Linked DNA regions of Homo sapiens. The protein of the gene in region 3 purifies or fractionates together with the protein of the main gene of each other region. This does not show direct contact. Each region holds a gene or a part of one and is shown on either strand. Other genes may lie near its edges.

The links. Proteins that work in one complex are often made in the same cells at the same time.
Region 1: the proteins of NDC1 (region 3) and OSBPL8 purify together in Homo sapiens (co-immunoprecipitation; one large-scale study listed by IntAct). This does not show direct contact.
Region 2: the proteins of NDC1 (region 3) and ARMC6 purify together in Homo sapiens (co-immunoprecipitation; one large-scale study listed by IntAct). This does not show direct contact.
Region 4: the proteins of NDC1 (region 3) and HAVCR2 purify together in Homo sapiens (co-immunoprecipitation; one large-scale study listed by IntAct). This does not show direct contact.

The regions. Positions count from the first base shown.
Region 1 is NC_000012.12:76,549,772-76,553,271, forward strand, and holds part of OSBPL8 (oxysterol-binding protein-related protein 8), read right to left. Parts: intron 1-3,500. UniProt on the Homo sapiens protein: Lipid transporter involved in lipid countertransport between the endoplasmic reticulum and the plasma membrane: specifically exchanges phosphatidylserine with phosphatidylinositol 4-phosphate (PI4P), delivering phosphatidylserine to the plasma membrane in exchange for PI4P, which is degraded by the SAC1/SACM1L phosphatase in the endoplasmic reticulum.
Region 2 is NC_000019.10:19,050,603-19,054,102, reverse strand, and holds part of ARMC6 (armadillo repeat-containing protein 6), read right to left. Parts: intron 2,482-3,500; coding exon 1,908-2,481; intron 1-1,907.
Region 3 is NC_000001.11:53,828,297-53,831,796, forward strand, and holds part of NDC1 (nucleoporin NDC1), read right to left. Parts: intron 1-3,500. UniProt on the Homo sapiens protein: Component of the nuclear pore complex (NPC), which plays a key role in de novo assembly and insertion of NPC in the nuclear envelope.
Region 4 is NC_000005.10:157,088,689-157,092,044, forward strand, and holds part of HAVCR2 (hepatitis A virus cellular receptor 2 precursor), read right to left. Parts: intron 290-3,356; coding exon 253-289; intron 1-252. UniProt on the Homo sapiens protein: Cell surface receptor implicated in modulating innate and adaptive immune responses. Generally accepted to have an inhibiting function.

The DNA of each region.
Region 1 (3,500 bases), on a different chromosome or scaffold from region 3:
ACAATATTGTACCCAGCCAAATTATCAATCATTTGTGAGAATAGAATGGAGACTTTTTTACACAGAATTCGGAAAGTTTGCCTCTCATACATACTTCTTTTTCAAAGAGTTATTTGAAGATGTACTCCAATAAACAGATCAAGCAGATGCAAAAAAAAAAAAGGAAAAAAAAATATGTATAACAGAATGGATCCAATTCAAGAGTAAGGAGAAAGGAAGTTACAAGAAAAGACCTAGAAGAGTCCAAATGGAGGCAGAGTTACAGACAAATACAGATAAATAGAGAATGCAGCACAAAAGGCAGTATGCTGAAGAGTTGGGGTGTGGGGGGGCTGGGGTGTAGGGGAGGCTATAATAGAGGCATATAGTACAAGAAAAGAGGGCAATTTAAGACACTAAGAAAAACAGGAAGTCCTATTCAAAAACTTTTTTAATTCCAAAGTTAGATTTTGGTCATATCCAAATTTTTTTTTAATTTGATGGTCAGAATTGATAAAATAAATAAAGTCTACTAATTCTCTATATTATCAACATGTTTCTTCTGGCAGCCCAGGGACAGAAAAGGAATAATCATCTAAGCACATTATCTGGCTTAGCATTAAATAATACTTACACAGTCATGGTATCAACACTATTTATTGGTTTTCATAATTTAGAGACAACCTGTGGACATGACAGCTGAGATTACAGGGGAAAAAACGTGTATTTGTTTAGGCCAGGGGTGTCCAATCATTTGGCTTCCCTGGACCACACTGGAAGAGAAGAATTGTCTTGGGCCACCCATAAAATACACTAACACTAACAATAGCTGATGAGCTTTAAAAAACAAAAAAATCTCCTTATGTTTTAAGAAAGTTTATGAATTTGTGTTGGGCCGCATTCAAAACTGTCCTGGGCCGTGCGCAGCTCACCAGCCAGGGATTGGACAAGCTTAGTCTAGCCAATAAAAAGTACAGCTACTGGTTTAGAAGAAATAATCACAAGGTAATAAATGGAAAATTCAAGTAATTTCTAAAGCTGATAAAGAGAAAGGTGAATCAACATTAAGGCTGGGTACCAGGGTTCATGCCTGTAATCCCAACATTTTGGGAGGCAGGAGTTCAAATTCAGCCTATGCAAAATAGCGAAACCCTGTCTGTACAAAAAAAATAAAGTAGCCAGCCACAGTGGCACAAACCTGTAGTCCTAGCTACTGGGGAAGGTGAGGCAGGAGGATCCTTTGAGCTCAGGAATTCTGCACTCCAGCCTGGAGTGCAGGAGACAGGAGGAGACTCTGTCACTCAAAAAATAATACAAACATATATATAGTATATCAAGGAAGAGAGGAAAACACACACACACACACTAGAAACTAGGATGTTTTATAAAAACAACATAGCTTCCTTTATTGGATATACAGAAATGAACTGCTCCCCATGAACCTTACCCAACCCCTAAAAGGGGAAAAAGTTCTTTAATTAAGGATAATAGTTTCTTTCCATTTAAAATCATTTCTTTCAGATTCACTCATTCACTCAATCTTTAAAGCAGTAGTTCTCTACTGAGAGTGACCTTGTCCCCAGGGAACATCTGGCAATATCTTGAAACATTTTTCATTGTCACAATTAAGAAAGATGGTACTAGCATCTAGTGAGTAGAGGCCAGGGATGGTGCTATACATTCTACAATGCACAGGAACACACAACAAAGAATTATCCAGCCCAAAATATCAACAGAGTCAAGTTAAGAAACCCTACTTTAAGAAAACTCTTCAGACTTGTATAGATTTTCTCTGTTCCTCATTCTTATCATGGTGACTGGGCGTAAGATAAAGCTTTCATGGGCATCTGGAGTATTATGATTAGCCTGAATACAGACCCATGGATTGCCCTGGGGATCCTCACAGGCCTCTAAGGTTTGAATATTGGCCCTCACAGAGTCACAATGGCACATGCTGATGAATATGTTGGAACAGTATCCAGAGGATCTCCTAACTTGGCCCCACCCACCTCAGCTCCTGCTGGTACGGATATTATTACAGTCTCGACTACCTCGTCTATCCAGTCCCTGGCTTATACTTAAGGCAACACTAGCTGCTTAACAAATAAACCCCAGATTTTCGGTAGCTTCACACAATTAAAATTTCTCATTAATATTACAATCCATTGTGGGTATTCCTATTTGGTACACAAATTTCTTTCACATGGTAAATTTAGGGACTGTAGAACATTCCAATCTTATGGTTTTACTATCCCTTAAGAGCCTAAACCTCTGCATCTGGCCCTTGAATTAGAAAAGAGAAGGTGAAGAAAGAATACCTATTTTTTCTGCCACTTCAACCCAGAAGTGACAACAAATTGATTTCTATTCACATTCACTAGTGAAAAACTAGTGGCAGGCACAGTGGCTCACACCTGTAATGCCAGCACTTTGGGAGGCTGAGGCGGGCAGATCGCTTGAACTCAGCAGTTAGAGACCAGCCTGGGCAACATGGTGAAACCCCATCTCTACCAAAAATACAAAAAATTTGCCAGGCACGGTGGCACATCCCTGTAGTACCAGCTACTCGGAAGGCTAAGGCACAAGAATCACTTGAGCCCAGGAGGCGAAGGTTGCAGTGAGCCAAGATCCTGCCACTGCACTCTGGCCTGAGCAACAGAGCGATACCCCATGTCTCCAAAAAAAAAAAAAAAAAAAAAAAAAAAATGTTGCAAGCAAGAGGGAGCACAAATTTTTGTGGGCAATGAAATGAATCTGCCCTTCCCACAACCTCTGTCTACTACATGGTCCCTCCCTCACAATAGCAGCCTAATGACAGGCTTCCTGGCTCTCACTCTACTAACTTCTATTTCCTTCACTAGTCATATGTGAGAACATCCAGATCTCTTTCAGACCATGTAAGAACCATGGAAAACTCACAGAGTGCTATCTCTGGCCCCCTCTCTGCTTAAATATGCCATTTTCTTCCCTTTTGGCCACCCCAAGTCAGCATAGGGCCAGTGCAATAGGCTAGTAAGTGGCTGTACCAGTTCTGAACTTTGGCAGTCTGGCTCCAGGGTTCGTGCTATTCTGCCTCTCCAGATTTCTAAAATAGGTGATAAGACAGAGCACTTCCATTACTACCAATGGATATTTGTAAAGCACCTACATCTTGCAAAACAGCCTAGAACTATTACAAACTCCACACTATGATGCACAGCACTGCTTTTCTTTACTTCCAAATTGCTGATCTTACAAGTTATTATAATCATAACAATGCACAAAATTACACACTAAGCAAAGCTAGTCTCCAGAAGTCCCTCATCCTACTCTCCACTTGAACAATGTACCTGTGCCCTCACATCCAAAGCACCCCACCTCATTACTCTACCCGGTAATAATGTTACTTAGATTGAACTTCTCTCTCTCCAGATCTACCATACTTCCATCCCATCAAAATATACCAACATAGATTCCATAATTTCCACATGGGCCCCAGCCTTCCTTGTAAAAAATTATGTAATCTGACAAACTATTCCTGC
Region 2 (3,500 bases), on a different chromosome or scaffold from region 3:
GGGCCCTCTGTTTTGGTGGAGATCCTGCTCCACTGGAAGAGTCCAGCCCTTCTGCCTATTGGAGTGGCCACGGGCACCAGGAAGGCCCCAGGGAACACCAGGGGCTACCTGGGCCTGCAGTGCCCCCTGCTGGCTGCTGGGAAGACTTAAGAATGTGCCCCCCAACCCGCTTCCTTCCATCATGCCCCAAATAAATTCCATACCAACTCATGGTCTCACCTAAAAAAAGAAAACTATAATAGTGCAAAAAAAAAAAAAGACATCTGAAGACTATTTTTATGATCATGGGGTAGGAATGGCTTCTCTAAGTGCAACAGGAAACTCCAGAACCATAGAGGGACACATACGGACTGGGCTGACGTGGCCAAAACTGAACACAGGAGCCGCAGATGGAGCCCAGAGGCGCTGCACCAGGAAGCAGGTGCCGGCACTCACGCCAAGAGGGCGAAGATCCTGCACCTACACAGGGCTGCGACGGTCAGTTCCTGTGACCACCTGTAGCCCTCTGCAGTTCCACCCAATGCCAATCTAGGTGTTGCCGTGGAGGTATTCTGTCCACATGGTTACCATCCACAATCAGCTATCTATTATTATTATTATTATTATTAATTTTTTTGAGACAGAGTCTCGCTTTGTCACCAAGGCTGGAGTGCAGTGGCGTGATCTTGGCTCACCACAATTTCTCCTTCCTAGGCTCAAGAGATCCTTGTGCCTCAGCCTCTCAAGTAACTGGGATTACAGGTGCCCACCACCACGCCCAGCAATTTTTGTATTTTTAGTAGAAACAGGGTTTCATCATGTTGCCCAGGCTGGTCTTGAACTCCTGGGCCCAAACAATCCTTCTACCTCAGCCTCCCAAAGTGCTGACATTACAGGCATGAGCCACCATGCCCAGCCCAGTTGCCTTTAAGTAGAGGAGATGACCTTGAACAATGTGAATGGGACTCATTCCATCAGCTGAAGTCCTTAGAAGGAAACTGAGGTGTTTCCCCGAAAAGGGGACTGCCTGGGGGTTTCCAGCCTGCCCTATGGAGTACAGACTTGCCATAATTGCATGATCCCATTCCTTACCAAAAAGTCTCTTCATATATACATATCCTGTCTCTGGCAGAAACCTAACTGATTGGAGCTCCTATAAATAAAACAGGAAAGATGTGAGCTACCTCCTGGAAAAGCAGCCTGACTTTGCAGAAGGTCGGGACTCATTTTCAGCCTTGCTGGAGGTGTGGAAGGGAGACTGAGGTGGGCCCATCTCCTCAGCAGACAGAGCCAGAACCCCCACACAGGCCTGGCCACAGAACCAGAGTGACGGGGCAGGCAAGAAAGGGGAACTCATCCTCCTAACACCTTCTGTGTGTCAATCAGGACTTTTCTGGTGGGTTCAGTGGATGGGATGGGGGTAGGGGTTAAGACAGAAGCTTTAGGGTCTGACGGTCAGCACTGTGACCTCCCAGGGCTGGCTCACCATGGTCACCCTGGAGCCAGACACATGAATATGCCTAAGGATTTGTGGCTGAATATGATCAAGCGTGTACACATCCAGCTGAGACTGCCATGGTGCATGCCAGCCAGCCCCCCCGAGTCCTCTTATTTCCCTCTGGGGAGGTCCCCCTTCCCCACTCTCAGCCCCTGGAGTTGGACACAGCAAGCCCCTTCCCCAGACAGCTCCAGAGATGGGATTGTGGCCTGCTCCTGGCCCCTGAGTGCTGGCCTGGAATTCTCCTGGAGCCACTAGAAAACATGGGGAGACTCTTCACGAGGGCTGCCATGCAGGCAGGTCTAAGCCGAGGGGCGAGTGGAGCCTTGAGCCTGCCGTGCCTAAAGCAGTCCTGAGCCCTGACCCTCACTCTGGTCACATCTGACCCGCCCACTTTGTTCGCTGGCTCGTGTCGGCCCCCAGCTCTTACCTTTGGTGGCTTCGATGAGCACCTTCAAGCCTTTGTTCTCCTGCACAATCATCTTGGCATGGTTGTGGGCATGGCCAAAGGGCACACGGATGTCGTCATCGAAGGTCATGACACGCAGGGCCCAGCAGGCTTCCCTGACCACGTCAGTGTGGTGGCCATGATGGGTGATGGCACCAGTCAGCAGAGGCAGCACGCCAGCTTTCACCAGGTCTTGCCGATTCTGTTCATGTTTCAGGCAAGCGTGACGCACACAGCGGATCCCAGAGCAGGTCAGGTCAGCCTCATCAGCATTCTGGGTCAGCGTGGCCACTAGGAGCTGCAGGCCCTGGGCATCCAGGAGGTCTGGCTGTCCATCAGTCAGCACCGACAGGGCATTGAGGGACTGGAGCAGAAGGCCCTGGTCACCTGCAGTGGCCAGCTTCCAGGCAGTGAAGATGATGGGGTAGGCCCCCTTCTGGGCCGCGAGGAAGCGGCAGGCCTTGTCCTGTTTGCACTGGTCGCAGAAGCGGGTGAGGTATGCTGACACCTCCTGGGGGCGAGAGCTGGCCACAGACTCCTGGAGGTCACTGAGCATCTGGGAGACATGGGAGAAACCTCAGCATCAGCTCAGGCAAGAGGAACCCATGGCCACAGCAACAGTGTCTGGACCCCTGCAAGGTTCCCTCCCCTGGGATCTGGGCCTGCAGTGGAAGTGATGTGGGGCAAGTTACAGCTCTGGCAACTTCCAGACCTGTGATTCTAGGAGCTTTGAGCTTCAGAGGCCATAGCGTGGAAGACTGACACACACACACACACACACACACACACACACACACACACAGAGAGAGAGAGAGAGATCCAGACAACTCAGTGTCCCTGCCGAAGGGCTGCACACATAAATGCAGACATATTAAACATTCCAGCCCTACCTGCCATCAAGAGGCCCCAAGCGATACCAGCAGAAGAACCATCCAGTTGAGCCCAACCAGGCAGAATCACAAGAAACAATAAGATGCCTGTTGTTTGGGTTGTTTGTCACACAGCTGTAACAAACTGGCACACCTGTCAATGGTCAGCTCTCCAAGGAAGGAGAAAGCCACATTCACCAGACATACCCATCCTGATGTCTCCTTTCATCTCTCTCATTCACTCCACAAACATTTATTGAGCACCTGCCAAATGTGGTTACACTGTACAGAGAGCAGATTTATCCAAATTCAACTCTAAGCCACTGGGGAGAAAATACTTTAAACAACTCAGATAAGTTTAGCTGCCATTCAACTACATGACCTCGGGACATGTCTTAGCATGAGCCAAAGATGAATCTGTGAGCCTGAAGTGTAGGAGATTATTTGCCCTCAGACTGAATCAGGGTGGTTCTACAGAAACCACCAGCCCAAAGGGCTTTGATTTGGCATTGACTGACACGAAAAACAAAGAAGCCTATGGGATAATCCTCACTGAGCTCAGATTTGTGGACCTAAGTATATGTTACAATGCAACAGGATATTTAAAAAGGTAAGTTTTTGCTAAAATGAGATTAGAACTGAAAAACAAAAAACAACAAAAATTAAGTTAACACCAGTGTGCATGACTAGAATAGACATTACTACA
Region 3 (3,500 bases):
AAATACAATACAGAAAAATTTAAAGTTAAAAATTCTAAGTTAAAAAAATTTGAGGAAAGCATGAATAAACAGACACAAAAAAACCCAAAGAATCTAGAGATGAAACCTAAGGACAGCATGATCAACATTTTTCATTAAAATTTCCTAATAGTTCCAATAGTGCCTATCCTAGTATTCTCCTAAGCACCATAAAAGAATAATGATTTTTTTTTTCATATATGGACTACTGTAATGGTCTTGCAGTGTGGGAGAGTGACTGGGTTCAGCTCCTGAATACTGACTTTTTATTTATTTATTTATTTATTTTATTTTATTTTATTTTATTTATTTTTGAGACGGAGTTTCGCTCTTGTTGCCCAGGCTGGAGTGCAGTGGCGCAATCTTGGCTCACTGCAACCTCTGCCTCCTGGATTCAAGCGATTCTCCTGCCTCAGCCTCCCAAGTAGCTGGGATTACCGGTGCCTGCCACCATGCCTGGCTAGTTTTTGTATTTTTAGTAGAGATGGGGTTTCACCATGTTGGTCAGGCTGGTCTCAAACTCCTGACCTCAGGTGATCCACCCACCTTGGCCTCCCAAAGTGTTGGGATTACAGGCACGAGCCACCATGCCTGGCCTACTTTTTAAAAAGAACTCCTGCCATCAGCATTTGAAACTGTCAATATATAATCCACTTACGAAAAATAAACCATAAAGTAGGTAAATACTGACAACATAAATGCTAAGATAAATGCTTATATAGGGATTTTTAATACCCTTCAGACAATCCAAAAACATTTTCTGCAAATGAGCTAGGGAGGCAACTATGGGTAGGACATGAGGGATGTTTACCTTTGGAAACAGCTAGCCTAGGGTTCCCTGATCTATCTATGTAGGTATTTTGCTCTTACTATACTCAAAGTAAAGAGATGGCAGGAGGTAGAAAATTAAGTATGAAGGGACAAGTTTCAGGTGCTTTATACTTTGAGGAAGAGGTTCCTATGACCTCTCCCTCCCAACCAGAAATGCCCACAAGGTCCTACTGACTGTGCAACTAACTTATAACACTCTAAATATACCAAACCCTCTCATGTCACTAAGCCTTTTTATATGCTATACCTTCTCTCTAGAACATCATTTTCCTTCTTTGTCTACTTAATTCAACTCATCCTGCAAGGCTTGGTTTAAGGATCATCTCCTCAAGTTCCCCCATGCTGGGGCAAGTGGTGCTCCTATACAAGCTCTTACCATCCAATGTACTGTAATCAAATATGCTTCATGTTTACTGTCTCTCCATTAATCACGATCTCTGGAGAAAGATGGGACCTATCATTTCTCTTTTCTCTCCACACAATGCATGGCATATAGTAAATGCATAAGGGATGGTTACTGAAGGAATGAGCCAAAGTGAATAGTCAGGCTTTAAGAAGGACTGGCTGGGGACCCCTCAACTGACATATTACATACAGAAGATGACCCAAGCATATGGGAGAGTATGAAAGAACACTCTGTTTAAGTGTGGCTGTAAGCCAAGGAGTTTCGAATAGGGCTTGCATGGAAAAAGCTTACTAGTCAATAGTGAGGAATTAAGAAAGCAGGCTGAGTGCAGTGGCTCATGCCTGTAATCCCAGCACTTTGGGAGGCCAAGGTGGGCAGATCATGAGTTCAGGAGTTTGAGACCAGCCTGGCCAATATGGTGAAACCCCACCTCTACTAAAAATACAAAAAATAGACGGGCGAGGTGGCAGGCAACTGTAATCCCAGCTACTCAGGAGGTTGAGGCAGGAGAATCACTTGAACCCGGGAGGCAGAGGCGTCAGCGAGCCAAGACCATACCACTGCACTCCAGCCTGGGCAACAGAGTGAGACTCCATCTCAAAAAAAAAGAAAGAAAGCGAGGCTGGGCCCAGTGGCTCACACCTGTAATCACAGCACTTTGGGAGGTCAAGGCAAGCGGATCACTTGAGGTCGGGAGTTCGAGACCAGCCTGACCAACATGGTGAAACCCCGTCTCTACTAAAAATACAAAAATTAGCCAGGCATGGTGGCATACGCCTGTAATCCCAGCTACTCAGGCGGCTGAGGCAGGAGAATTGCTTGCACCTGGGAGGTGGAGGTTGCAGTGAGCCGAGATCGTGCCACTGCACTCCAGCCTGGGCGACAAAGCTGGACTCCATCTTGGAGACCAAAAACAGAAAGCAAGCAAGGGAAAAGGATACGTATTGTAACATCCAAAGTCAGAATTTGAAATTTTACGCCAGATTTTACAAGGAAGTGTTGAAGAACTAAAAAGGCAAATGATGTAGGCTGGGCGCGGTGGCTCATGCTTGTAATCCCAACACTTTGGAAGGCCGAGGCAGGCCGATCACCTGAGGTCAGGAGTTTGAGACCTGCCTGACCAACATGGAGAAATCCCATCTCTACTAAAAATAGAAAAAATTAGCCAGGTGTGGTGGTGCCTGCCTGTAATCCCAGCTACTCAGGAGGCTGAGGTAGGAGAATCGCTTGAAACCGGGAGGCAGAGGTTGCGGTGAGCCGAGATCACGCCATTGCACTCCAGCCTGGGCAACAAGAGTGAAACTCCGTCTCAAAAAAAAAAAATTCCTCCCGGTCTGAGTATTCTATGATCCTACCGCATCTGTTTCTCTCAAAAAAAATAATAAATAGGCCAAGCATGGTGGCTCATGCCTGTAATTCCAGCACTTTGGAAGGCCAAGGCAGGCCGATCACGAGGTGAGGAGATTGAGACCATCCTGGCTAACATGGTGAAACCCCGTCTCTACTAAAAATACAAAAACAAAATTAGCCAGGCATGGTGGCGGGTGCCTGTAGTCCCAGCTACTTGGGAGGCTGAGGCGGGAGAACGGCGTGAACCTAGGAGGCAGAGCTTGCAGTGAGCCGAAATCGCGCCACTGCACTCCAGCCTGGGCGACAGAGCAAGACTCCGTCTCAAAAATGATAATAATAATAAAATAAATAAATAAACAGAATATTCATATAATCAATGAAATGTAAAATCTAAAACATGACATTATGATAAACTAATTTAAGGTTTAGACATGTTAGCACATATGGAACATGTACATTTAAAAAATTTTTTTTAAGTTTAAAAAAAGGAAAATGGGCTGGGTGCAGTGGCTCACGCCTGTAATCCCAGCACTTGGGAGGCCGAGGGCAGATCACAAGGTCAAGAGATCAAGACCATCCTGGCCAACATGGTGAAACCCCCTCTCTTCTAAAAATACAAAAATTAGCCGGGCGTGGTGGCGCGTGCCTGTAATCCCAGCTACTCCGGAGGCTGAGGCAGGAGAATCACTTGAACCCAGGAGGCAGAGATTGCAGTAAGCTGAGATCGCACCACTGCACTCTAGCCTGGCGACAGAGCGAGACTCTGTCTCAAAAAAAAAAAAGGAAAATGATGTTATAGTAAAAAAATAAGAGTCAGGAAAAGCTTCTTATTGTATCTTTTTTTCCTTATGTGAATCTGCCACAACTTGTATCTTAAAGGCAGTCTCAAGGAATC
Region 4 (3,356 bases), on a different chromosome or scaffold from region 3:
AATAAGCATGTTGTATTATTAGGGTGATAAATTCTATACCTTAACTTTAGAACTAAAGAAGCTAGAGGTGTCAGGAAGTACACACAGTAGCATGTTACATTTTCACTTCATAACTAGACCTAGAGAAAGAAGGAAGTATAAACTCAGATCTCAAAGCCCCAGGACAGGATTTCTCAGAGAAAAGATCAGACATGTTAGAGTAGGGACTTCCAAGATTCTCACCTTTTCCCAACCCCATTCCATTATTCTTACCTTAAATTCTGTATCTTCTCTTTGCTATGAGAATACCCTAGTAAGGGGGAAACAAAAGCCAATAAAAATGCATTCATAAAATAAATGAGACAAGAAATCAAATAGGTTCACTGGAAGCACGCATAGTTTAGGGAAATCTGGTCTCATCTCAGATTGAGTTAAATGAAACTCTCAACGTGTGCCTTAGATAGTTATATGGACTGTGTTAGAAAATAATAATAAAGATGCATTTTTCTTATTTAACAAATATTATGAGACCTCTACTATGTGTCTGGCAGTTTGCCTGGCACAAGGAACACAGGAACATAAAAGTGAATTGTGAGCCCTAATTTCACGAAGCTCACGCTCTCCTGTGGGAGACCAAAGAAATAAAAGAAAACAGTACCCCAGACCCAAGACCAGCCTGACCAACATGGAGAAACCCCGTCTCTACTAAAAATACAAAATTAGCTGGATGTGGTGGCCCATGCCTGTAATCCCAGCTACTCGGGAGGCTGAGGCAGGAGAATCACATGAACCCGGGAGACGGAGGTTGCGGTGAGCCAAGATTGCGCCATTGCACTCCAGCCTGGGCAACGAGAGCGAAACTCCGTCTCAAAAAAAAAAAAACAACAACAAAAAGGAAATAGTAAATAGGAAAACAAAATAATTTCAAATTATGATGTATTATAAAGGAAACCAACATCATAGTGAAACAGATAATAGAGAGGGTGGTCAGGGAAGGACCCTCAGAGATGAACTTTAAGCTCGTTTCTGAAATGAGTCAGCCAAGTAAAGAGCCAGAAGGAGCATTCCAGGATGAGGGAGCCCCTTGTAAAGATCTTGCTGAGTACCTGAAACTGAAAACGTGGCTGGATTAAGGGAGCGGCCCAAGATAAGGTCTGAAAGGTAGGCTGGGGCTAGGTCCAATAAGACCTTTCCAGCCATAATCAGGAGTCTGGATTTTATTCTAAGACCTGTAGGAAACCTTAGATTTCCTTGAAGGGCAGAGATGTGATCCTTATTTGTTTTGGGTTTCTTTTACCCGCTGAAAACAACTACGTTATCTCATCATTTCTGTGTTGTGGGTCAGGAATCCAGGTGTGGCTTACTGGGTACCTCTGGATCAAGGTCTTTCAAGGTGTCTTCTGGGGATGCAGTTTCAAAAATTTGAAACTTAAAATTTTCCTTTCTTTTCTTTTCTTTTTTTTTTTTTTTTTTTTTTTTTGAGACAGGGTCTTGCTCTGTTGGCCAGGCTGGAATGCAGTAGTAAGATCATATCTGATTGCAACTTTGAACTCCTGGGCTCAAGGGATCTACCCATCTCAGCTTCTGAGTAGCTAGAACTATAGGTGCACACTACCACAGCTGGATAATTTTTTTTAATGTTTTTGGGCTGGATGCAGTGGCTCACGCCTGTAATCCTAGCACTTTGGGAGGCAAGGCAGGTGGATTTCTTGAGCTTGGGAGTTCGAGACCAGCCTGGGCAACATGGTAAAACCTCATCTCTACTAAAAATACAAAAACTAGCCAGGTATGCTGGCACATGCCCGTGGTCCTAGCTACTTGGAGGCTGAGGCAGGAGAGTTGCTTGAACTCGGGAGGTAGAGGTTGCAGTGAGCCATGATCACACCACTGCACTCCAGCCTGGGTGAATCTCAATATGTTGCCCAGGCTAGTCTCAAACTCCTGGCCTCAAGTGACTCTCCTGTCTTGGCCTCCCGAAGTGTTAGGATTATAGGCATGAGCCATTGTGCTCAGACATTGATTTGGGTTTTAATATTGGATTCGAAGGAGGAATAAAGAAATGAGAAGATAAATTAAGTAGAAATAATGGTGTCTTGGAGTAAGGAATGGCCAAAAGAGATGCAGAATAATGAAAACACTTTAGATGTATGTTGGAGGAAGACTGCAGGAATCTTCTGTTGTTGTTTTTCTCTGAGACAGGGTCTCCCTGTGCTGTGTCACCCAGGCTAGAATGCAGCAGCAAGATCATAGTTCATAGCCTCAAACTCCTGGGCTCAAGTGATCTTCCTGCTTCATTCTCCTGAGTAGCTGGGACGATAGGCGTGCACCACCATACCCAGCCCTAAGGAATCTCAACATCTAAGGATCAGGCAGAAGAAGATCTGAAAAGCAATGGATCAAAGAGAAGAATGTCATTTCAGAAGCCAAGAGAAGGAGGACTTTCTAGAATGAGTGATCAATTTAAAAGGTTGACTATAATAAAGATAAAGGTATCAGGCTGGGAACGGTGGCTCACGCCTATAATCCCAGCACTTTGGGAGGCCAAGGCGGGCAGATCATCTGAGGTCAAGAGTTTGAGACCAGCCTGGCCAACATGGTGAAACCCCCGTCTCTACTAAAAATACAAAATTAGCCAGGCATGGCGGCACATGCATGAAATCCCAGCTACTCAGGAGGCTGAGGGGGGAGAATCACTTGAACCCGGGGAGGCAGAGGTTGCAGTGAGCCAAGATTGCACCATTGCACTCCAGCCTAAGCAACAAGAGTGAAACTCTGTCTCAAAAAAAAAAAAAAAGATAAAGGTATCTGTTAATATTTAATTTAGAAAACTGAAGGTCAGTGGTGAGCTTGACCATTTCCGTTGTGCTTTGGAGCAGAAACTAGATGATGGTGGGTCAAGGAGTGTAGATGGGTGAAAAGTAGAGACAACTCCTTTGAAAAATATGGCTGTGAGAACGAGTTGAGAAATGGGACTAGCTGGAGAGGAATGCATGGACTAGAACATATATTCTGCTAATGAAAATAGCATAAACAGAAAAGGAGAGAGATGACTCAGAAGAAAGGGATAAAAAGAAGGATGAAGTCTTGGCCTAGGCAATGGAGATTAAAAAGCCCTTTCATATTTCATCAGTTAGGAGAGGGGCAAAGAAGTTTTGAGCAGCAGTGAGGTATGGATGGTCATCTCAGAGAGTACACTAGAAAGATGGAAGATTGTGGGGCATTATTGAGTGTCAGTTTGTTTTTGTGAGGTCATGACTTAAAAAGCTGTCACCTTGATTTTAATATTTTCTCCAGCAACTTCCAGGGAAAAGATTGGAAATGAAACAGGCCTTTCTTATCTGTACTTCTCAGTAGCCATGTTTTTTTGGAGTGGCATA